7 linked regions of the Homo sapiens genome follow. The protein of the gene in region 1 interacts with the protein of each later gene in a pairwise test. Each region holds a gene or a part of one and is shown on either strand. Other genes may lie near its edges. The genes, in order: FGFR3, MAOB, TSPAN2, HS1BP3, P3H3, BRPF3 and SPRED2.

Region 1 (3,037 bases):
ACACGTCACTCTGGTGAGTGTAGACTCGGTCAAACAAGGCCTCAGGCGCCATCCACTTCACGGGCAGCCGGCCCTGGGAGGGTGTGGGAAGGCGGTGTTGGCGCCAGGCGTCCTACTGGCATGACCCCCACCCCCGCACCCCAGGGCCGGGCTCACGTTGGTCGTCTTCTTGTAGTAGTCGAGGTTGTGCACGTCCCGGGCCAGCCCGAAGTCTGCGATCTTCATCACGTTGTCCTCGGTCACCAGCACATTGCGGGCAGCCAGGTCCCTGTGGATGCACTGGGGAAGGGGTGGGAGGCAGGGCTGAAGCCTCTCCACCTCTCCCCGCTGCTCCCAGCATCTCAGGGCAGGGCCCAGCCTACTCCACCCACACCTGCCGCCCTGCCCACCTTCTGGGAGGCCAAGTACTCCATGCCCCGGGCCACCTGGTAGGCACAGGACACCAGGTCCTTGAAGGTGAGCTGCTCCTCGGGCGGCTTGCAGGTGTCGAAGGAGTAGTCCAGGCCCGGGGGCCGCCGCGCCCGCAGAAACTCCCGCAGGTTACCCTTGGCCGCGTACTCCACCAGCACGTACAGGGGCCCTGGGGACACGGGCTCCTCAGACGGGCTGCCAGGCCCAGGAGGGCCGCCCAGCCGGCACCACCGCCGCTACCGCACCTACCGCCCTGCGTGCAGGCGCCCAGCAGGTTGATGATGTTTTTGTGTTTCCCGATCATCTTCATCATCTCCATCTCAGACACCAGGTCCGACAGGTCCTTGTCAGTGGCATCGTCTGTGCACGGAGCGGGGGGCCTGTGTCAGGCGGCGGCGGCGCCCCCAGCCCTGCTCTGCACCCCTGGCCGCCCCCTCCTCACCTTTCAGCATCTTCACGGCTACGGTGACAGGCTTGGCGGCCCGGTCCTTGTCAATGCCGATGGCCTCCGCCATGACCACCTGGCCGAAGCAGCCCTCCCCAAGGGGCTTGCCCAGGGTCAGCCTGGCAGTGGAGGCAGAGGGACCATGAGTGTGCAAACTCGCCCACTCTCAGCCCACCACGGTCCCCACCCCAGCCTGGCCCAGCCCTTGAGGCCCAGAGCCACCACCTCCAGGAAGCCCTCCATGCTCCCCCTACAGCCTGCTCGTAAGGACGAAGAGTGTCACCCACAGCCTCCCGCCCTTGCTGCCCCTCCAGACAGGGCACCTTGAGAGGGGCAGTCCCTGCCATACACCCGTCCCAGGAGCATCTCCACAGAACCCCAGCCACACCCAACATCCGCCACATCCCTGACGGCCCCTAAACCCAGCCGGGCCTCTGACTGGTGGCTGTTTCACCCCCACCACCAAGCCCCCTACAGCCAACGCTGGCCCTCAGCACCACTGACCGGGCCCGAGACAGCTCCCATTTGGGGTCGGCAGGCAGCTCGAGCTCGGAGACATTGGCCAGCGTGGGGCCCTCCCCTGAGGACAGCCTTGCGATGCGCACCAGTGGTGTGTTGGAGCTCATGGACGCGTTGGACTCCAGGGACACCTGCTTGGGTCAGCAGGGGCAGGTTGGCGCCGCGTGGGCGACAGGGCGTGGAGGTACAGCCGGGGGTCAGTGCTGGGCCAGAAGGGGGGGCGTTCTGACTTCCACCAGCATTGAATGAAGATTTTTAGAATGTTTCGTGCCCCAAAGTACCCTAGGCTCTACATGGTGAGCAGAGACGAGGAGAGGGGAGCCCGCCTGGCTGCAGAGAGGGCTCACACAGCCCAGGACCAGCGTGGGCCGAGGTGGGGCTCCAGGAGGCCTGGCGGGCAGGCAGCTCAGAACCTGGTATCTACTTTCTGTTACCTGTCGCTTGAGCGGGAAGCGGGAGATCTTGTGCACGGTGGGGGAGCCCAGGCCTTTCTTGGGGGGGCTGCGCAGGCGGCAGAGCGTCACAGCCGCCACCACCAGGATGAACAGGAAGAAGCCCACCCCGTAGCTGAGGATGCCTGCATACACACTGCCCGCCTCGTCAGCCTCCACCAGCTCCTCCTCGGCTGCAAAGACATGGGCGTTGAGGCCTGGCCTGGCCCCCCCCCCCACGGGGCTCCCATGGATGCCCCTGGCCCAGAGCCGCAGGCACCACTGGGAGCGGAAGGGGGCTCAGAACCTCAGCACGCGCCTTGTCTGGAGGGTCTCGCAGTCAGTAACGCCAGTGAGTCTAGAGGGCCAGACCCTGGAGAGAAGGAGCCCAGCAGAGCCAGCCAGTCCCACACCGCCACCAGGCGCCCGGGAGACACCAGAGCCACAGGAGAGGCCTTTGGGGACCCAGATGGGAAGTGGGCTCGAGGGGGCTGAGGGGGCCCCTCTGGGACCAGGACCGGGCCAGGCCAACTTTGTCCCCACACTGGGCACAGGGCCAGGAGTGAGGGCTCAAGAAGCGGGACGGCCGTAAGTCACAGGATTCCCGTCCGTCCTGGCAGCTTTGGCGTGTCCCGAGCCAGCGTCCCCCAGACAGTGCGGAGCAGCAGCAGCAGCAGAAGCCGGTACCTGGCAGCACCACCAGCCACGCAGAGTGATGAGAAAACCCAATAGAATTGCCCGCCAGGCAGGTGTACTCCCCGGCGTCCTCAAAGGTGACGTTGTGCAAGGAGAGAACCTCTAGCTCCTTGTCGGTGGTGTTAGCGCCCGCCGTCTACAAAGAGAGAGCAGAGCGATAGGCGAGCGCCAGCACCGCCCTGCGGGCACCGCACAGAGTCCACACGGCAGGATCCAGCCGCTGCAAGGAAAACGCCGCCACCACCAACTCCTCAGCCACCGCCAACTTGGTCACCGCCACGCGGCTGAGGGCCCTCCGCCTGGTACACCGGTACTGAGCCCGAAGCCAGGCCCCTCCACCGGCGAGTCCTCTGTCCCAGGTGAGCGGCAGGCGGGCAGGCAGCATGCGGGTTAGCGCAGAGCCGGGCGGGTGCAGGTGGAGGATGGACACAGGGACACACAGGCTGCGGAAGCGAGCAGGCAGCGGGCAGGGGTGGAGAGAGGCGCAAAGGGGTGCTCACAGACGGCACGGAGCCGGCCCGGTGGGCACCGGGCA
Region 2 (3,500 bases), on another chromosome or scaffold:
AGACACCCTCTCTCTTTAGACTCTCACAAGTAGCCCCCTTTTGTGGGCCAGGAAGCCAAGAGCCGTTGCTGAAAAGATGGTGGTCAATCCAATCAGCCTGAGCAGGCCTGGCACGGAGGGCAAATGTCTCTCCAAAAAGGTGGTGGTGATGGGCTGTGCAGGGACATCCTAGGTTCAGAAAACATTGGGTATTAGTACAGGGCTTGTGCACTTTATTCCAGAAAGTCTGTACTTTCTCCAGCTCTCTGAACATGACCCATTCTTGCCAACGTCTAGACCAGTAAACACGATGTTCCCTCTGCTTATACTGTTTACCCTGTCTTCCTCACTGGACCCTTCACTTCCTCAGGGAGGCTTTCTTTCCTGAGACCCCAGCCTAGGATGACATTCTCCTTTTGCATTTTTTCTCAGCATGTCTTCTTCACTGTTCTGTACTTTTTGGTTATCATCTGCATTCTCCACCAGATGTTGAGCTCCACAAAAATGCTGCTGTGCCTTTGCCACAATGGCTGATACAGAACACGTGTGCCATAAATACTTGTTAGTAAATGAATCAATGGTCCCTACAGCCCACAATCCCATCCCTGGCAGAAGCACTAAGAGAATGACTGTGGAGTGGCAGGCCTATTCTCTTTGACTTCACACTTAAAAGGATAGAGCAATAATTCTGACCTTTGTGACTTTGTCCTCTAAAGTGCGTTTGCACTCTAACCTCTATGCATCCCTCCTTCCAGCCAGGAAAACTTCCTAGGATTTTATTACAAAAATGATGAGTATATTAAAAATAAAATTTTAATCTAAATATTCTCCATTTCATTCCATTTGTTTGTCCCTGGACAGGAGATGCTAACACACTTTCCTTTCTTTTCCTACCTCATGTGGAGAATCACCAGGCTAGATATTTATTTGACAGGCATTTATTGAGTTATTATTTTTAGAAGTCTCCGAGAAATGTCTCCCTCCTCATCAAAAAATATTTTTTCCTAATAATCTGTAATGAATGTGACAGCTACAAATTTATCAAAGTTCATCTAAATCTCTCACCTCTACCCTAACCCATGATACTTATTTAAACATTCATGTTTAAATCACTTAGTTGAATCACTTAGGAAAAGGTATGTGAATATATACAAGTGTGCTCTTCTTGAAAATAATGGGTTTAGAGAAAAGATATCTAATTTCATGAAATAAAACATAGCCTACCACAGACTCTGGTTCTGACTGCCAGATTTCATCCTCTGGAATCTTCCCCATGGCATGCAGGATCTGAAATGAAAGAACACACTGGCAAATAGCAAAAGTGACACCATCTTTCTTCTAATCTGCTCCCTAAAGGACTAAGTAACTGTCTCTTGAGATATCCATCAAAAACACCAAGGTAAAGGCCAGAACACTCCATACAACCTTTAAGAGGCGCCAAAAGGTCTTTCTCCTGTGGTATAAGAGGTTCCAATCATTAGGCTTACCATAAATTTTAATAGTTATGAACACACCTCAAATAGGGATGACATCAGAGGAACTGTCAGAAAATCTTTCCTGTGAAATGAATTGAATTTTGAGTCCTAATAGAAGCATGTTTGGTTCTAGAATATCAGACCTAGGTTACCTTTCAAGTATAGTCAGGTTGATCGTTTGCCCCATGGGCTCTTTTTACTTCGGGTGACATGTTAGGTATTTTCATTATTACTTCGGGCTAAGGTGTTCACTTCACCTGAGACAATAGTTAAAATAGTATTTTATGGGTCTTAAGATGGGGGTTACTGGAGAGTTGGTCTCCAGGCTCTCAGATATCTTTGACCTACATGTCAGGACCATGAGTTGCCTCCTTCCCCATAATCTATGACCCCAGACCCTACCTCTCGGGCTGCTCTCTCCCCGGCCTCTACAGCCCCCTCCATGTAGCCGCTCCAGTGTGTGGCAGTCTCGGTGCCTGCAAAGTAAATCCTGTCCACTGGCTGGCGTAGAACCCTTGGAACAAAACCAAAGAGGCAAAAGTGGTCAGTCTCAGAGAGTCAGAGAAAAGTTTTCCCATAAAGACCAATGCTGGTCAGCTTCCACAGATTCTAAACAATCAAGAAGGACATTGGCAATTTTGGAATAATGTTTATGTGGTTCCTCCAGCTCTTACATGATCCTTGTCACAAACAAAATAGAATAAAAGCCAAAGTTCACTCCTGCACCAAGAGTTGCAGGTGAAGGAGCTGACATTAATGGACGTAAATTATGTATTTGCTTCATCAACATGAAGTGAGGGACTGTGTAAGCCCAGTCACATGGCTCCCTTTATGGCTCACTGGCTCTGTGGCAAGGTGATACATGCCCCCAATTCCCCACTGGCTATTCCACTAGTGAACTTGGCAAATCACTTACTCTCACTGTGCTCTGGCTTCCTTGCCTCTTAAAGGGAATGGTCCACTGATTTCTAAGACCCTTTCAATCAGTAACATTTAACAAATCTGAGAGTCTGACTATGGCTCCATAACTCCTATTCCTTGAACACTTGCCTGTACTGGTGAGGTCGGTACTATTATTATCACCATTTTGCAGATAAGAATATGGAGGTAGACTGTGGTGGACATTGTGATGAACCACGCAGGCCCCCTTCAAGAATGAAAGACTTATTCCCAGCTGCTGGGAGTGCTGCCAGAAGAGGGCCTACTGATGTCAGCCCTCTTTGGAGATTGCCTCTGCTAAAAAAAACTATGTTACCTACTAGGTCATGCCTCCTTCCAATAGCAGTTGCATCCAGTGACTGATCACCACGGGCTGTAAATACCTGATTCCCAAGCTCCAACTTGAGACCTCCCACTCTGAAGGGCCATTCTAGTTCTGGAACTTCCTCTGGGGTCAGCTGAGGCCTTCACTGGAACTGCACTGCAGCCCAAGTTCTCCCTATGCCCACTCCTGCTTCCTTCTCCCTTCCACAGCTGCCAATCCTAAGGGCATGCCTTAATATATATCCTGTCTGCTAATCGTTGTTTCAGGGTCTGCTTCCTGGAACCTAACCAGCAACAAAGACAAAGTAATTTGCTCTCGGTCACAGCTAGTAAGTAGCAGAGTTGGTATTTGAACACAGGCAATCTGACTCTGGAACCTACAGTCTTAACCACTTAGTTATACTTCCTCTCTCTACTGCATTATTTCTTCAATCTATTAAAGAACTCTGTGATGTAGCTACTATTATCATTATCTCATTTTTACATATGAGAAGACTGAGGCTTGGAGAAATGTTCAGTGATATGCCAAGAGCCACACTCCTAGAAAATAGCAAAGCCAGGATTTGAACCATGTCTAACAGATGTCAAAGTCTCTATTTTTATCTTATATTCTTTGCCTGGTGTATCATCACCCTATAATATTTAATAGTTAGTAGACTGCCCACATGCTATACAAGGGACTGAAATGTCATAGCACTTGGCCTGTAAGAGGGGCAGTTCATTGTTGCTCTGACAAAAATACCATAAGGAAAGCACCGTCAACATGCCATTATTCATCCTGTC
Region 3 (3,500 bases), on another chromosome or scaffold:
TCTACCATTCAACAGCCTTGTGACCTTGAGCAAGTTACTTGGCCTCCCTGATACCCACGCAGCTCCCTCATTTGTAGAATGAAGGGTCACAGGAGATGGCTACACTCCCTTCTGGAACATTCAGTGGGACTGTGCTGTCCGTGGAGTGCTCAGAGCTACATGCAGTTAATCACAGAAGGCTTACAGAGGAGATGGGCCAGGCCAGAGTTATTCTGATTTTTTAGACACTGTGATATGAAGAAGTAGCTGTGAATTCCTGGGCCAGGTGTTTTCAGGTACCTAGTTCTTGTCTAGGACAAGTATGTCTTGGAAAGTGGCCACCATTTATACATTTATACGGTTTCACCTCAGCTGCCGCCAGGACCTGAAGCAGCACACAGGTTCTTTTGTCTTAAAGGGCCAGCTAGCCTAAGCAGGACACCTGTTTGCTGGCCAATCTTCAAATCTGGTCTTTTGGACCCTGGAATTTCCTGCAGCCACTTCTCCCCTCTTCCCCAGACTATTCCCAGCTAATGAGTCCTTCTGCAGCTCATAAAACTTGAGCTCCTCAGCAGGTTAAATGACTCCCAGTCTGAAAGAAGGAATCTAAAGCCCCAACCCCTTTCTAAAAAGTAGCAATTTACACAGACACTGTCAATTAGCTTCTTGCCTTGTTTGGGTTGCCTTGAGTCACTTCCCATCATAAACTCAGATGGCTTTAGCGAAGTCATTTTCTTGTTTTGCCAGCATGATTATGTGATTCTTCACTCTCCTTCCAGAAATAGCAGTCTGGGTTGCAGTGACTGGGCCTCGGAGCTGCTTTGCCGCCTCGGCACCCCAGTCCTTAGCAGGGTGCCCAGACTTGTAGCTGCTACTCCTCCCGCCTGGTCCTGAAGTCTCTTTTCTGACTCTCTAGTTTCAGTGCTGTGGAAAAGAAAGCTCCGAACAGGTCCAACCTACATGCCCAAAGGAGCTTCTAGGACACAAGGTAAGCTTCTACCAAGGTTCTTACTCTACCTGTAGTATCATGCTGCTAGCTTAGGAAGCCATTGAAGGTAGAATCTCGGATGGGATCTGCATTTTACTGAATTTGCTCTAGTGGCAGCATAGAGGATTGATGGAAAATGAATAGCGTTGAGCTGAGAGACCCATTGGGAAGGCTGCTGTCCTTGTTGTTAGCAAGAGATGTTAAAGAGGGCCCTTTAGAAAGTGACAACTACAGGAGTGGTGACCAGAGAAGAGAGGAGAATCCATTACTGGGTTTTTGGCTTCACCACCTACATAGATGATGGTGTCATTTATGGAGCTGAGGGAGAGAGGAAAAGGAGCCAATTGTGGAGAAAAGAAAATGAGCTTTGTGTTTAACATGGTGATTTTGAGGAGCCAGTGGCACTTCCAAATGGAAATATCCAGTAGGCAGTTGGAAAATCTGGTTTGTGGCTCAGGAGAGAGGTCTGAGTGTCAGCACTTGATGGGAAACTTAAAGCTATAAATACGGATTTGATCCATTAGACTTGGAAGAAAAGAAGGATGAGGATAGATCCTTGGGGGACAATTTAAGGGTGGGCAAAAGAAGAGATGCCAAAGAAGGAAACTGGGAGGGGCGGCCAGACACAAGTGAGGAGACAGCACGGGAAGGGGAGGGAATGGTCACCAGGCCCAGGTGCTGCTGTTGAGGGCAATTCAGTATTGATCAGCTGCCTACCTTATGTTCGGCACTGTGGATGCAAAGGAGAAGGAGAAAAAGTTCCTACTCACAAGGAGCTTGCATTGCAGTCTGATAGGAGGGATGAACATGAAGTCCATACGGTCCAGTGATTAGGAATGCATGGAATGTGCAACGTGCTCGGAAAGCACAGAGGGAAACGCACTTAGGAGAGGCGAGAGGCTGGGGGATGGGGAAGGCTGACAGAGGTAATGATGTCTCAGCTAAATCTTCAAGAATGGAAAGTAATTATGCAAGCATTGGGCAGAAAGCGGGAGGGGGAGGCCTGCGTGCCGAGAGACCAGCGTAAGCAACAACACAGAGGCAGAAATGACATGGTTTGTGTGGGGAACTGAAAGCCTAAGAAGGTCTACTAATAACTGCTGAAAAGCTGGCAGGATTTAGCATGCAAGGAACCAACTGGTGACGTGCTGTGAGGGATGGATTGAGGACAGAGCCCAGGTTTCAGAGAGCGAGATGTGAGGAGAGAGAGCATCCTTTCAAGAAGTTTCGATTTGAGCCAAGGACACAGAAAGAAAGTTTACAAAAGTCAAAGTCCAAATTACCATTAAACATATAGAAAATATAGAAAATTAAAAGTAATATTTAAAATCAATAGCAAATTAAAATGAAGAGATGCTGTTGTTTAATCTATGAAATTGACCAAGTGTTTTTCCTTTCCCTTAACAATAATACACAGTTTTGGTAAACGTGATGTCGTGAGCATTTTCAGAGAAATTAGTAAATAGTTTTAAAGGTCAGTATGACTATGTAAGACTAGAGGATTAAGTATGTTTATGCCCTTCTATCCAGAAATTCCACTTCTCGGAGTTTATTCTAAGGAAAAGGAATCAGAAATGCAGACAGACGTTTTTGTGCAAATCATGCTCATTACATGTTATTCATAAGAACAAAACACTGGACAGACCCTTAATATGTGGCAATAGGGGATTGTTTGGATAAATTGTAGTATATTCATATGATGAAATGTTTTACCACCATTAAGAATCATGATTTCACCTGTAATCCTAGCACTTAGGGAGGCAGAGGCAGGCAGATTGCCTGAGCTCAGGAGTTTAAGACCACCCTGGGCAACATGGTGAAATCCCGTCTACTAAAAATACAAAAATTAGCCAGGCGTGGTGGCATGTGCCTGTGATCCCAGCTACTCAGAAAGCTGAGGCAGGAGAATCACTTGAACCTGGGAGGCAGAGGTTGCAGTGAGCCGAGATCGCGCCACTGCACTACAGCCTGGGTGAGAGAGCGAGACTCTGTCTCCAAAAAAAAAAATAATCATCATAATCATGATTTCAAAGAAATTTTTAGTGAAACAAGGCATTTTTAAAGTTGTAATATTAAGTTTAAAAAGCTCACTGTTGAATATAAAGAATGACCTAAGGGTGTAGGTGTGTTTGTGTGTGTAAGTATCACCAACAAATTTATTACCTTTTATGGTGAGAATACAGACATTTCTTTTTAAAAAAAAAAAAATCTCTTTTCCAGATTTCTACAAGAAGCATGTATTCCTTTTGTGACTAAAGCCAATATACCTTTTGTACATTTGTTTTTTACAAAAAGAAGCTGGCAATGAAGGGAAGGAGGGCCTAATGGCAGAACTAGAGGAGGACAGTCTCGAGTGTTGTTTTGTTTGTTTTGATTGAAGAACTGAGCATGGTGATAGGATAAGTAGAAATGTCAATGGATAAGGAGAGGCTGAATGTATAGGAAGGAAAAAAAGTAACTGGCAGTGCAGGCTTCCTGAGGAGCTGAAAGACCCAAAGCAGGATATGAAGTTAACTGTCTTTTATTATTATTT
Region 4 (2,781 bases), on another chromosome or scaffold:
AATCAAGTTCTGGAGAATCAGTGGCCTGGCCTGTTTCTTGCCCTCAGTACCCAGGGATGGTCCTGAGTGACCGTAACACTGCCAGGGCTTTTTGCCCACCCACCAGTGGGAGATTAGAGGTCTGGGGTCATGACAGAGTCTTGGTGGGCCCTGGCCGAGGCCATCCTCAGCTCTCACTGGGTTCCGTCTGGCACCCGTGTGGCCCACAGCGGGGCACTGTGGGCGGGCCAAGCCTGTACCACCATGGCTCAGCGCCCCTGGTTATTCTTTCTCTGGCTGAACTTGCTTTGGATGAGGGCTCAGCTTCTAAGGGCCGATGTCCTGTTCCTTCCAACAAAGGCACTGTCACATACCATCCCCTCGAGGTCACTCGGCCTCCTGGGACTCCAGCGTCCTCATCTGCGTGATGGAAGCACAGTCATGCCTCCCCAGAGTGGCGTTTTGAGGATAAGATATGATAACGTGTCTGAAGTGCTGTACAGAGCGGGAACTCTGTACATAGTAGCTGGTGGTTATTTCTGAAGGGATTGGAGGGAAAGCCCCCTACAGAAGGCAGCGTGTGTCAAGTGGGGTCACCTGAAGAGCAACTCTCAGGAGGCTGCGTGGGGCCTGCCCTGTGCCTGCTTTGCTGTGGGTGGGAGGGAAGGAGAGCCCTGGCCTTCGTGTCTCCTCTGGGCAGGATGGGTGGAGGGGCCAGAGTGGAATGGGGCAGAGCAGGGCGGGGCCTTGACCTGGCCGAGGCTGGGCTCCCTGCCGCTGCCCAGCCCCGTGTGGGCACTGGCATTGCCTGGGGTCTTGTTCCTGTCACGGGGTGGCAGTGTTATGCTCAGGGTTCCTCCCTGTGGTTCCCTAGAGTTGAAGAGGACTTGGACCAGATTCTGAACCTGGGAGCTGAGCCCAAACCCAAGCCCCAGCTTAAGCCCAAGCCACCAGTGGCAGCTAAGCCGGTGATACCCAGAAAACCAGCTGTTCCCCCCAAAGCGGGCCCGGCTGAAGCTGTGGCTGGGCAGCAGAAGCCGCAGGAGCAGATCCAAGCCATGGACGAGATGGACATCTTGCAGTACATCCAGGACCACGATACACCAGCCCAGGCCGCCCCCAGCCTCTTCTGACCCTTCCATGCTGGCCCCTGGCCCAGCAGGCCTGTCTGTGGGGACATCGGTGTGAAGGGAAGGGACTGGGCCCTGCAGGGTCAGAACCTCCCCACCCCCAGGGGAGGCCAGGCAGAAGCCTGGGTCACAGCACCCAGAACTGCATGGTTCCATTTTCTCCGGGGCTGTGGGGCCAAAGTAGAAGCCTGCGGGCTGCGGGAGCGGCTCTCACCCTAGGAGCCAGAGCCCAATGTGTCTTATTCCCCGTGGACATGAAGGGGAGGGAGGGTGTGGGGATGCCTTGCCAACCAGAAGCCCAGCCCCAAGGATGAAGCAAGACATGTGGGGCCGTAGCGAGGTGTCACATGGGGCAGGGAAGCTTCATGCCCACGGGTTCTGCCAGCCCCAGCACAGACCCAAACTGGGGCTGGGCCTCTATCCCTCCTCTGCCTCTGTTCGCATAGTAAGAAGGAGTGACCGGTATCCTCCCCTTCCCCTACCCTAAGCTGTAGCCTGGGTGACTGACTGGCCTGGGCCTGGGGTGGGGACGTCCCCAAGCCAAATTACTCCAGGGCCTCTGCTCCTCGTGGCTGCCAGGGGCCTGCAGGGTCTGGGTGGGTCTCCCAGGAGAGGAATACTGAGTGGGAGATCGGCTGTCTGGAGTGTTCTGATGCAAGTCTCTCTCTCCTGAGCCTCCTCTTGATGCAAGCTCTAAAGGGAGAAGTCAGGCCCTGCCTCTCCAGGGTATAGACGGCCCTGCTAGGCCCCAGTTCTTCCTCCTTCCCCCTTTCCCAGGAAAGGCCAGCCCAGTCCATGGCCTTCTTGGGCCTCTGGGCACAGAGCCAATGTTCGTCATTGCAGCTCTCAGCAAACTGGGTCATAGCTTTCCCCACAGCTCAGCCTGGGGCCTGGGCAGGGCTCCCAGCCTGCACCGCCTCCCACTGCCAGTGGGGCATGATTCTCTCAGGCTTCTGCCCCGAGGCCTTCGTCGTCCTCAGGGTCTGGACTTGGTCAGTGGCCTTTCACCAGTGGAGCTGCCTTCCCAGGGAGAAGGAGCCGTGCGCCAGGGCAGGGCCCGTGCCTTAGACTTCTCCCGACCCCCAGAGCGCTGGTACACAGGTCTAGGCACCACACAGTGCTTTGGAAATTCTCAGTGAATGATGTTTAATAAAGCAAAAAATGTCAAGGTGTCTTTCTTGGATATAATTCTTCATGTTCAGAGCTAGTTTTTTGTTTTGTTTTGTTTTGTTTTTTAATGAAACAGTAGTTTTAAAGGAAATGCAACCACTATTGCTCCTTGGCCCTGTCCTGCCTGGCAGAAGCATTGAGCGGGTGGGACTAGGACCTCAGACCCTTTTCTGATAGACACCAAAGCCAGCCCTGAGGGAGCCCCCGGCTGATGGTGCGGGTGGTTTGCAGCCATCAGTGTTGAGTGTCTCAGCTCCTGGCCCGTGCCAGGACCTGTCTGCTCTGTCCTGCATCTGATCACGTCCCTCTCCAGCTGTGGCGCCCTGTCCTGAGCAGCTTCCCCTCCACCAGTGCTAGAGTGAGAGGAAACAGGTGGTTTTGGGGTCGAGAGCTGACTCCCTCCTCCTCCGTCTTAACCCAGGCTCAGAGGGTCAGCTCCCTCCCCAGGGCTCTGAGCCAGCTCTGGGACAGCTCCAGCACCGGCTCCACCCATTTGCCTTCC
Region 5 (4,177 bases), on another chromosome or scaffold:
GAGCGACAAGGTCAGGGGTTGGGGGATGAATACTTAGAGCACATTGATCCTTGGGGCAGAGGCAGTGCTGGAGAAGGTGGTCTCCAGAGGCCAGACAGCTAACTCCAAGAGCCCCCTTCCCACTGGCAGACAAGTTCAGCTGCCGGTTCTTTCAAACACTGGTGCAAACATACCTTAGCTGGAGAGTTCAAAGAAGAGCAAGAGGGGGGAAAATAAAGGAAGGTGAGAAGCAGCAAGGCAGAAGGAAGCCCATCTCCTGAGCTTGTCACAGGCGCCAAAGGAGGGCAAATTAGAGTCCTTGTGAAGTGATGGTTCCCATGCAGCCCTGACAGTGAAACTACAAATCCAGAGACAGATGGGAGGGATAGAGAGATGGAGCTCAGGATAGCAGCAGAGGCAAATCTTCACTCCCCGTTTCCACCCTTCCCCAACTGACCCTGAGCATGGGCCTCATGTAGCCGCCTCAGCTGGTTGGGAAGGAAGTCTGGGACAGGGAAGCTGCGACCAGGGCGTGTGGCTGTTTCCCCCACACAGCGTTGCCGGCACTGCAGGACCTGAATCCAGTGTCCTGCAGAGGAAACCCATAAGCCATTCAGCTTGTTCATGCCCCTCCCTGGGCACCGACCCACCCCCTCACACACGGGACCCTTACCTGCAATGGCCTCATAGAGGCCCCCCTGGCTCGCAGCCCCATCCTCCTCTTCTTCAGCCCCCTGCTGCTCCTCAGGCCCCTCACAGTCAGCACGGCAGCTCTCCATCTGGGCCAGGCTCCCCTGAAGAGCCTCCTCTAGCCTGGGCAGTGCCAGTCCTGCCTCCTGGCGCCCCAGTAGCTCCAGGCCAGTGTCATAGGCTGCCTGTTGGGGAAGGGAGCAGTCAGTCACCTAAGATCCAGGGGTTGCCAAACTGGGAGGTAGAGAGGAGAGGGGTGTTGGTCTCATTTGGGGCAAGGACTCCATGTCCCTCTTCACCGTGGAGAAGAATAAGGGTGGGCCTCAGAATCATAATGTTAGAACATCAGATTTCAGTGATCATCCAGGAAGGAAACGAAGTCCTAGAGAAGGACTCCCAGCCAGGGTCGCTGAGGATCATTACCCCATCTGTATGCTCAAGCAGCACAACGCACAGTTTAGTGAGGCCTGTGTATCCAGCCAGGAAAAGGCTGGTGGCAAGACAGGGGTGGTGCTGGGATTCTCACCCAGTGTGGGGGCGTCTCCAGGTCCCGGAAGCTCTGGGGCCGAACTCCCGACATTCGTCTGTACTTAGCCATGTCCTCCCGCATCTGCAGGTGCATGGGGTTTGCTACAAAGAAGGTGTGTGCTGCCGCAGCTGCCAGATCCAGCTTCTTCAACTGAGGAGGCGAAGGGAGGAGGGCATCAGAGCCCTGGGACGGGGGGCAGACCTCTGCCCCCTGGCCAGCCTCCCCACCCTACCCCAGACACACACTCTGGGTGCCCCAGAGCCTCATGGAAGACTGGCCAATCAGAACCGCCCACCGCCCGAACTGCAGATCCCCTAGAGGCCAGAACGTTGGGACTCTCAGAAGGCTGGCACCGAGGGAAAGGGGATCTAAAGACGTCGGAGTTGGGTGGGACATGGGTCTCAGGACTTCAGGACCTCAATTTGGGAGACCAGGTGGAAGTGATGGCTTAAGTGAGGTGGGGAAGTGGGGGAGACCTCAGCGACCAGCAAAACCCGCAGGTCTCTAGGACCCTGAGCTGAGGTGAGTACAACCGGCGCCCCGCTTCCCCAGCCACGTAGGCAACTGCTGCGGTACCGGCGGCTGCGGCGTGCTGTCCCCTCCCCGCCCGCAGAGGTCTGGCCTCGGAGGACCCCAACCTTGCCTCCGTCTGCTCCTTCCTTTCCGAAGCTACCTCCTGCCCCAAGCGAAGGTTCACACTCACCACCACCCCCGACACACACACACACCCACGCACACTTCCCGTCCGAGAGCCGGTTTCGCCCCCACCGCCTCCGCTTCATTCCTAGGAAGAGGCGGCCCTGTCCCTCCATCTTCGATCTGCTCCCGTCCCACCTCACGACCTCCCCGCCCCATTCCCATTCTGCTCGCACTCCCCCTCGGCTGCTCCTCTGCGATCTCAAGAGGTCCTCGCGGTCGCTTAGCCAGCTCCTACGCAGAGGCCCGCGGTACGCTCCCCAGCCCCGTGCGGGGCCCGGGCAACAGCATTCCGCCTACTCCTGGGCAACGCAAAGTAGGACAGCGTCGTGGTGAGGGCTGGGACCCTCGGAGCTGCCCGGCCCGCTCCCCACCTGGTAATAGGCCCTCTGCAGGTAGTTGTAGGGCTCCCGACGGCGGAAGGCGTCCCGGAGCGCGCTCCCCACGCGAAGCCGCGCCGCGCCCCCGGGGCCCAGCCTCCGTGCTGCGCACTGGGTCAGGCAGTCTGCGCGGCGGAGCGCTGCACGGAGAAGCTGTCGCTCCCAGGACCCCTGCGTGGGTCCCGGCCCGGAGTCGGGCTCCGGGGCCCCGAGAAGCACGGCGGGGAGCGCGGCGCCCGGATCGGCCGCGCAGCTCGCCCCGCAATCCAGCCGCACCCGGCCCAGCGCCGCCTGGCTCCGCAGCGCCTCCCGCAGCAGCGCCACGGCCGGCGCCCAAGCCCCGGCCGCGTAGGCGCGCAGCCCGTCAGCGTAGAGCAAGTCGGGGGCCTGCGGGGGCGCCCCCGGGGACAGCTGGGTCAGGCCGGGGGGCTCAGGGGACCCCGGGGGAGGCAGCAGCAGCAGTAGCAGCAGCGGCCGGAGGAGCCGGAGCATGATGTCGGAGCCGCCGGCAGCCGAGGGGAAATGCGGGAGCCGAGAGGGAGGGAGAGGAAAGGGGGGAAGGGGAGGGAGGGGGAGGAAGGAGAGATGGAGAGGCGGAGGGAGAGGGAGAAATAATGAGGGAGGCCGAGAGAGAGAGAGAGAGAGAAGATGGGGCTGAGACCCGATGGTGGGAGAGGCCCATGTGAAAAGATGGAGAGAGAAGAGTGCTGAGTGGACAAAGCTGGTCTAGTGTGGAATAAGAGGGAGAAACTGGGAGGAGGAGGGCAAAAGGCGGGAACTGGAGCAGGCCTGGGCATCCATGAAGGATGACTTCAGCCCCAGCGGTGACTTCAGCCCCTGAGGTCTGGGGGTAACTACTGGGGCTGTGTTCCCTCCACACACACGCTTCTGGGTCCAGAAAAAGGAGTGTGGACGCCGATCCCCCCCTCGCCCCCCCCCACCCCCCCACACTCATCCACCCCTGCACTCCCACCCCCCCACACTCATCCACCCCTGCACTCCCACCCCCCCCACACACTCATCCACCCCTGCACTCCCCCACACACACACTCATCCACCCCTGCACTCCCACCCCCGCCCACACACACACTCATCCACCCCTGCACTCCTTTGGAGAAAGAGCTTTAAAATGCAGCAAGGAGGAGGTGTCCAGGCCCGGGACACTGCATCAGCCCCAAAACCTTTCCTGCCCATAAAGTGAGCCCCTGCATGGATTTGAGGTTAGAAGGAGAGTTGGGCACTGGGGCTGGAGCCACGCTCTAAAACCACCTCAACAAATCTGAACAGAGATCCTTCATACCCCAACCAACGAAGATGTGTGTCCTCAAGCCCCGCCCCCAGCAGGATATGCTCCTCCCAGCCTTCCCTGTGCGAGGCTGCCTGGTGGAGCATGTGATCATTTCTCCATGTGTCCTTCTGTGCCTCTGTCTGCTGCCCCTGCTCTGTCGTGTCCCCTGTGAGCCACTCCACCCTCCAAGCCCCTTTCCACCGCAGTACACTGGACACTGAGGTTTCCATGGCAACACTTCAGACTTTAATACATATTGCTAGGGGTGATGGAAGCTGAGTAGGGCATCTGGTCACTTGGATGGGAGAGAGCAGGGCCTTCTGAGCCCCAAATCTAGCGCCCGTCTCCCCAGAGTCTGGAGGCAGCTGCCCTACTCTCGGCCAGAATGAGGTGTTACTCACTCAGGCTTTCTCCTCTGAGTTCAGCAGGCCTGCTTGGGCTCACAGGGTCAGCTGGGGAAAGATGGGGTTGCCTGGGCCCCAGGATCCTCCCCAAGCCCTTGCACTTTCTTCACCCCCCGTCAGGGAGCAGCGTCTCCCTGCGCTTAGTCCCAAAGGAAGTCCAACGGCTCTGCTCTCAGGGGACCCAAGGGAGAGTCGGCGGGGTGAGAGGCCC
Region 6 (2,773 bases), on another chromosome or scaffold:
GCTGGGAGAGAGAGTTTTGATCAAATTACACACCTGGTGGGTGGGGTAAGGTGGTTCTTCCTTAGAGTAAACTCCTAACCAGAACAGCTGCTTTCAGCTGCTTATCTTGAGAGGGATGTAGTGAAATTGGCAGACAAGCAAAGGTAAATAATGAGAGCAGTTTATTGTAAGAAGGGGCCCACTGGGACAGCGTATAGGAAGTAAGATTGCTCTGTCTCTGGAGAAGGCTGCTTCCTCAGTAAGTTCCTAGTCTTTGCTCCCAGAGCTATTAGCTGTCTGCTCTGGAAGCAGGGGCTGTGTAGGAGGCAGTGGGCTGTGGAGGCCCAAGCCTTGTTTGGTTTTAGTACCAATGTGGTTTTAGCCAGCTACATTCTGCTTCTGTGCTTGGTGTTTTCCTCTTGTCAGCTAACACCTGTTAGCAGACTTCTCAGCATCAGCAAGAGATTGAAATGAGATGATGTGTGAATAATTAGGAGCTTTGGAAACTTTGAAAGTGCTCCCTAGACCTGGATTTTGATTGTTGTGTTGATGCTGCCAGGCATTTTGCTGAGCACCTGCCGTCTCTGAGCCAGGCAAGGTGGGGCTGGATGCCAGAAGCAAACCTGAAGGAGAAGGGCCCAGCTGCTGCCCTTGTGGAGCTTATTGCCTCAAGGATTAATGCCTCCAGTGGCCCTTGTTTCCACCCACATCATACCCCCCTCTCCATCAACCTCCAAGCTCATTCTCTAGCTATACACTGAGCCTCCTCTCTGATCTTACCATGGAGGTGTCACAAATATATCTGGTCCATGTATCAGGAAGGATTGTAGTCAGACAGGAAGGTAGTGGGTAACCAGAGACCTCGTTAGAACCAACTGGATGGCCTTCCCGATGCAAAGCCTTCTTCATAGCCGTGGTACCTAGGGAAGGCCCCCAAACATTTGAGGTGAATTGCAAAGGTACTAAGGGGAAATTGACAGGAAAAAAAAAGTGACCTCTACTCTTCTGTCCTAAGGGACATTGGAGGAAGGGGTTTGCCTGTCTGGTCTGGACATCAAAGATATCCCACTCAGGCCTGATACTCCCCTGGTGTGGGTGCTTCAGCAGTTGGTCCTGCAGCAGGGGCACTGCTCACCCTGGCCTCCCTCACTGAGTGCCCATCTTCTATTCTGCCTCCAGATCATCGATCCCAAGATGCCCCGGGAGGGCCTCCTGCACAATGGCGTTCCCATCCCTGTCCCCCCGCTGGACGTGCTGAAGCTGGGAGAGCAGAAACAGGCAGAGGCTGGAGAGAAGCTCTTCCTTGTCCTCTTCTTTGACAACAAGCGCACCTGGTTAGTGGGTGCTGCTGTGAGGGGGCTGAGGGGCACGCCAGGGGTCTGTGCCAGTGGTGCTGTGCTAGTGAGGTGTACAGAGGGGCCATGGATGTTACCAGTTACCCTGGTCTCCACTTGCCAGCAACAGGCCTGCACTTGGCATGTTAATAGTAACTGAGGGGTGTTGCAGATCAGATTCCCTGGGAAACACTCTGAGGTCGAGACTTGCATCAGGAGGCTATTGAGGAGAGCTGTGGGGCGGGAGCGATGCAGCACTGGGCAGAAGTTGAACTACAGCCCACTTGCTGCCTCAGCTCATCCACTGGGCACATCTGGAGCTGGGTGGCTCAACAAGATAAGAGATGTCAGGAATTGGGCCTGTGCCTTTTTGCCCTGTGCCAACTAGTTATTCAATGCCACTGCCCTGAGGGAGGGGTGTGGCCTGGGCCTGAGGCTTCCATGGTGGAGAGTGATTCCTAGAGAGGGACTCAGATGAGAGCCTGTGAGCTTCCAGCACTTCCAGTAGCTTCTGGGAAGCATGTTTCCGTCCTGAGGGGGGTTCTGGCCAGTGCAGTGTCCGCTACAGGAGACTTGCTCATTTATGGTTTACAACACTTAAGGTTTCTCTTAGCACCAACAAGAGAGTGCTTTCACCTTAGCTTCTATAGAGTGAGGAGGGAGAACTAGCTAATAAAAACAGTGATAATAGTAGCTGCCATTGAGTGCTTACTCCATGTCCTTATGCAGATTGCTTTATATATCTGATCTCTTTTAATCCTCATTTAAGTCTTCATTAATCCCCTCATAATCCATTTTGCAGATGAGGAAGTTGAGGCTCAGAAAGTCCAGACCCTGTAGCCAGAACTAAGATACAAAACAAGATCTTGCTCCAAAGGCTGTATCCTTAGCCACATGTTATATTCACCCGGGGAGCTTTAAAAACACATACACAGTGTGCAGGTCCCACCACAGATGAGTTTATCAGTTCCTGGCATCAGCTCTACTTCCTAGCCATCGCCCCCTAATTCTCCAACGCAAGGCGAGGCTCAGAGCCCTCCAGGGTGGCTCAGCTGGCCCCAGAGGGCAGCAGGTGGGCCTTTCTTAGCCTATGGACCCTTACAACTCTCCAAACAGAGTAAGGGCCCAGAGAAGGACCTAGCTGCAAAATTGATTCCATGCCATTCCCCCACCCGACTCCTGCATATCCTGCTTGCTGTCCTCACCTGCTAGGTTCTTGGTGGCCTCCTGCATGGAGTCCCCCAATTTGCTTCCCTCTGCCCTGTACCCTCTCCCTGGCTTTGCTGGTCCTGGCCAAGTGGGGCCACAGGAGCCCGAGCCCCCTGTGAGACCCACTACTGCCCAGCCTCTTACTGTGCTTGCATTTCAGGCAGTGGCTTCCAAGGGACAAAGTCCTGCCCTTGGGTGTGGAAGACACCGTGGACAAGCTCAAGATGCTGGAAGGCCGCAAGACCAGCATC
Region 7 (3,500 bases), on another chromosome or scaffold:
AGAATCTCTGCAGAAATCACAGTATTAACAATTTTCAATAGCTGCAGGGTTCTGCTGGAGTCTTAACACTTGAGGGTGGATACAGCTGTGCTGATGAACTCCAATATTGGCATCATTCTTGTATTGCCGGCTGAACACAAATACAGTCTAACAGCAAAATTTTCAGAAATTGAACAAGTGATAATAGAGGCAGACCAGAAAGTTTTGGTGTATGTGATTATTTGTTTGGGCTTGTTTTTACTAAGGTAAATTAGGCCGAGTTTTTTAAAAAGACCCCGTCATCTCAATAAACTTGATAACTTATTCTTAGAAATATTTAAAAATTACTATTTAAATCTAGAACATTGTGATGGTGCTTTTAAGGCATTTTCTAGGGCTCTTAGTGACTTTGAAGTAGAAGAAATATTTTGTATTGATGCTCCAGTGCCCCGTGGAACAAAATATATTTTTTATATGCTTTCCCTGGATAGACATGAAGGATTGTTACATCTTGACATATGTCCCATGTCATGGAAAGAAAGTCAGGCCAGGATCATGGGAGTTTGCTAAATTAAGTAACAATTGTTTCATAACTACCCATTTCCCTTTCTCATGTAACCTTTATCAACATTATGTTCACATGTGGCATATTGCACACGTATTATCAAATTGTGCTTATGTTCTTCCTGCTACTCTCAAAGGGTAGTTGAATATTTATTTAAAAACAAACTTTCTGTGTTTACTTGCACTTAGAGGGTAAAGGTAAAGAAACAGATTTTGACTTCACCCTTAGCATTTAACACTTGTGATTGAAGAGATTAGAACAAATATTGGGAGCTTCTAAAATGTATGGTTTTGGCTCCTCTGTGTCCTGAAATAACGATTTTTCAGATCTGGTTGTTTTTATTCTTTGATATATTTCCTGTGGTCCATTTATAAATGCTTAAAACTTAATTATCAGTTAAGTTTTTAATTGACTTTCATTTGTTCATCTGGTAATGACATCTTTGTCTTTTCATTTTCATTATTTATTCCTCTTGTTTCTTTTTCTTACTGCTTTGCTTTGGCTCTGGCCTCCAGTACTGACTTTTCAGATACGCACTGTTTATTTTGTATTTGCATCCATACTAACTGAGAATGCACAGAGAAGCTTGGCCCATCTGTCTTTCTAGGTGTGGGAATAGGTTTGTTTGTTTGTTTGTTTGTTTTTGAAACAGACTCTTGATCTGTTGTCCAGGCTGGAGTATTCCAAGTGATCCTTCTGCCTTGGCCTCCTGAGTAGCTGGGATTGTAGGTGTGCGCCACCACACCTGGCTAATTTTTAAATTTTTAGTAGAGGTGAGGTCTTCTTAACGTTGCCCAGGATGGCCTTCAGCTCCTAGCCTTAAGCAGTCCTCCTGTCTCGACCTTCCAGAGTGCTGGGATTATAGGCATGAGCCACCTGCACCTGGCATGGGAATAGCTTTATCTTTTATTTTTATTACTTTTTTTTTAGAGATGGGGTCTTGCTCTGTTGCCCAGGCTGGAGTGCAGGGGTGCAATCATGGCTTACTGGAGCCTTGAACTCCTGGGCTCAAGCAGTGCTCCCATCTCAGCCTCCCAAGTAGCTGCGACCACAGGTGTACACCACCATGCCCTTTGAGAATAATTTATTAACCCTCATACCCATGGCCTGGCAGAACACTGAGCACATAGTAGGCTTTCTGTAAACAGTTATCAATTGGTTGAAGTAACTATTCATTAATTGAAAAAATAATTGTACCGTGTATAAAAATTTAACAATTTTTCACAATTTAACAATTATCTTTTTTGGATACCTATATCCAAAAAAGACTTTGAGTTGCTTTTTCAAAACTACTAAAGGAGAGGCTGCCATGATGGTAGTGGAAGAATCATGGACTTTGGAGTGAGACCGTACCTCTTCCCCTGCCACTAAGGGACCCTGCTAAGTATCCCAAGCCACCAGCCCTGGATTAATGTAAATGAGGTTCATTCTGCTGTATACCTAATAGGCTGTTAAAAAGTAGAAATGGACCAGGCATGGTGGTTCATGCCTGTAATCCCATCACTTTGGGAGTCCGAGGTGGGCCGACCACCTGAGGTCAGGAGTTCGAGACCAGCCCAACCAAGATGGAGAAACCCCATCTCTACTAAATATACAAAATTAGTTGAGCATGCTAGCACATGCCTGTAATCCCAGCTACTCGGGAGGCTGGGGCAGGAGAATCGCTTGAACCTGGGAGGCGGAGGTTATGCCAAGCAGAGATCGTGCTAAGCAGAGATTGCACCATTGCACTCCAGCCTGGTCAACAAGAGCAGAACTCCATCTCAAAGAAAAAAAAAAAAAAGCATAAATGAGGTAGCCTTGGTAAAACATTTTAGCACAGCACCTGAGAAATTGAGATTCAGTAGCATCCATCTACCCCAGGTCTGTCCCCCATCATGTAATAAGGTGTTCTTTCTTTTCAGAATTTACAAGGCAGAGGAGATCCATGAACTTTACAAGGCAGGAAACAAGATTTTCACTTTGTACCTTAGAGAGCTGAAATGACTTGCTCAAGGCTCCTCAGGGAGCTTGTGGGAGGATAATTAGGATTTAGAAGTCATGTTCTAAGACTGACTGTTTCTTTTGGCTTTCTAATGGTGTCCTGGTAGTTTTTGTACTGTGATAATCAATAATGCCCAGCTGACCATTGGCCCCTTTACTCAGTGATCCCAGTTGGCTGTGCTTTTTGAGATTCTGAGTTTTATAGCTTGTCTGTTCTCTTAGGGTAAGAGTACCTACCTGTAATAGCATCCTTGGCTCCCCTGCCATCCCTACGCCATTCCTGATATGTGGTCTAGATACCTTATTACCAGCAGCATTCAAATTCTCTCTAAAACAAAAGTCAGTAGGCTTGGTGTGGATGGGTGGGACTGACCATCCTCTTAGGAGTCACTTGGCTTATGACATGTTTTGTCTACTTGAATGCCATGTTTGGCATTTCATTTTATTTTTCCAGCCAAGGAATAAAGTGGACGATGGAGTGGGAATACAGACATAGTGCTAGACTAGAGGTTTAATTTATCAACATCCCAGTAATTTTACTCATTTTTATAGATCTTTTAAAGCAGCGTAAGTGTGACTATAGTCTTAATATAGTTATTACATTTCTCCCTTTTGCTTAAAGGTTAAGTCAAGTTTGATTTTTTTCTCAGGCTCAGACTCGCAAAGCAAATCTGCCTTGCTAGAATGATGTGCCTGGGCTCAACAGCTCACCTCTGGCCCTGAAGGCCTAATAATTGGTTGCCTTCTCATTGATCTGTGTGTGAGCACACTTCAGAACAGTACTCTGCTGTTTGTTAAAATAAAAAACAACAACAAAAAACCTTTGAAGACCTTACCGTCCATTCTAAGATGTCTTTTGTACTAAGGAAAATTGGGGATACTAGATTATAGGTGTTGATTTGGAGTGTGATATACTGTGAATCGGAATAACTTGAATTTAGAATGTACTTAGGCCCCAGTTGCAAAATTATGT

The links.
Region 2: the proteins of FGFR3 (region 1) and MAOB interact in binary tests that used the Homo sapiens proteins (3 or more experiments, as listed by UniProt).
Region 3: the proteins of FGFR3 (region 1) and TSPAN2 interact in binary tests that used the Homo sapiens proteins (3 or more experiments, as listed by UniProt).
Region 4: the proteins of FGFR3 (region 1) and HS1BP3 interact in binary tests that used the Homo sapiens proteins (3 or more experiments, as listed by UniProt).
Region 5: the proteins of FGFR3 (region 1) and P3H3 interact in binary tests that used the Homo sapiens proteins (3 or more experiments, as listed by UniProt).
Region 6: the proteins of FGFR3 (region 1) and BRPF3 interact in binary tests that used the Homo sapiens proteins (3 or more experiments, as listed by UniProt).
Region 7: the proteins of FGFR3 (region 1) and SPRED2 interact in binary tests that used the Homo sapiens proteins (3 or more experiments, as listed by UniProt).

The regions. Positions count from the first base shown.
Region 1 is NC_000004.12:1,803,293-1,806,329, reverse strand, and holds part of FGFR3 (fibroblast growth factor receptor 3 isoform 1 precursor), read right to left. Parts: intron 2,639-3,037; coding exon 2,494-2,638; intron 2,001-2,493; coding exon 1,810-2,000; coding exon of another isoform or gene 1,804-1,809; intron 1,510-1,803; coding exon of another isoform or gene 1,507-1,509; coding exon 1,361-1,506; intron 976-1,360; coding exon 854-975; intron 772-853; coding exon 661-771; intron 581-660; coding exon 390-580; intron 280-389; coding exon 157-279; intron 74-156; coding exon 3-73; intron 1-2.
Region 2 is NC_000023.11:43,767,451-43,770,950, forward strand, and holds part of MAOB (amine oxidase [flavin-containing] B), read right to left. Parts: intron 1,969-3,500; coding exon 1,857-1,968; intron 1,267-1,856; coding exon 1,204-1,266; intron 169-1,203; coding exon 16-168; 3' UTR 1-15.
Region 3 is NC_000001.11:115,055,004-115,058,503, reverse strand, and holds part of TSPAN2 (tetraspanin-2), read left to right. Parts: intron 1-895; coding exon 896-967; intron 968-3,500. UniProt on the Homo sapiens protein: May play a role in signalling in oligodendrocytes in the early stages of their terminal differentiation into myelin-forming glia and may also function in stabilizing the mature sheath.
Region 4 is NC_000002.12:20,617,318-20,620,098, reverse strand, and holds the end of HS1BP3 (HCLS1-binding protein 3), read left to right. Parts: intron 1-853; coding exon 854-1,112; 3' UTR 1,113-2,281; downstream 2,282-2,781. UniProt on the Homo sapiens protein: May be a modulator of IL-2 signaling.
Region 5 is NC_000012.12:6,827,030-6,831,206, reverse strand, and holds the start of P3H3 (prolyl 3-hydroxylase 3 precursor), read right to left. Parts: upstream 2,801-4,177; 5' UTR 2,767-2,800; coding exon 2,269-2,766; intron 1,349-2,268; coding exon 1,196-1,348; intron 855-1,195; coding exon 653-854; intron 569-652; coding exon 437-568; intron 1-436. Other genes in the region: GPR162 (probable G-protein coupled receptor 162), read right to left, coding at 4,003-4,177. UniProt on the Homo sapiens protein: Part of a complex composed of PLOD1, P3H3 and P3H4 that catalyzes hydroxylation of lysine residues in collagen alpha chains and is required for normal assembly and cross-linkling of collagen fibrils.
Region 6 is NC_000006.12:36,227,744-36,230,516, forward strand, and holds part of BRPF3 (bromodomain and PHD finger-containing protein 3), read left to right. Parts: intron 1-1,158; coding exon 1,159-1,313; intron 1,314-2,115; coding exon of another isoform or gene 2,116-2,116; exon of another isoform or gene 2,117-2,682; coding exon 2,683-2,773. UniProt on the Homo sapiens protein: Scaffold subunit of various histone acetyltransferase (HAT) complexes, such as the MOZ/MORF and HBO1 complexes, which have a histone H3 acetyltransferase activity.
Region 7 is NC_000002.12:65,422,600-65,426,099, reverse strand, and holds part of SPRED2 (sprouty-related, EVH1 domain-containing protein 2), read left to right. Parts: intron 1-3,500. UniProt on the Homo sapiens protein: Negatively regulates Ras signaling pathways and downstream activation of MAP kinases. Recruits and translocates NF1 to the cell membrane, thereby enabling NF1-dependent hydrolysis of active GTP-bound Ras to inactive GDP-bound Ras.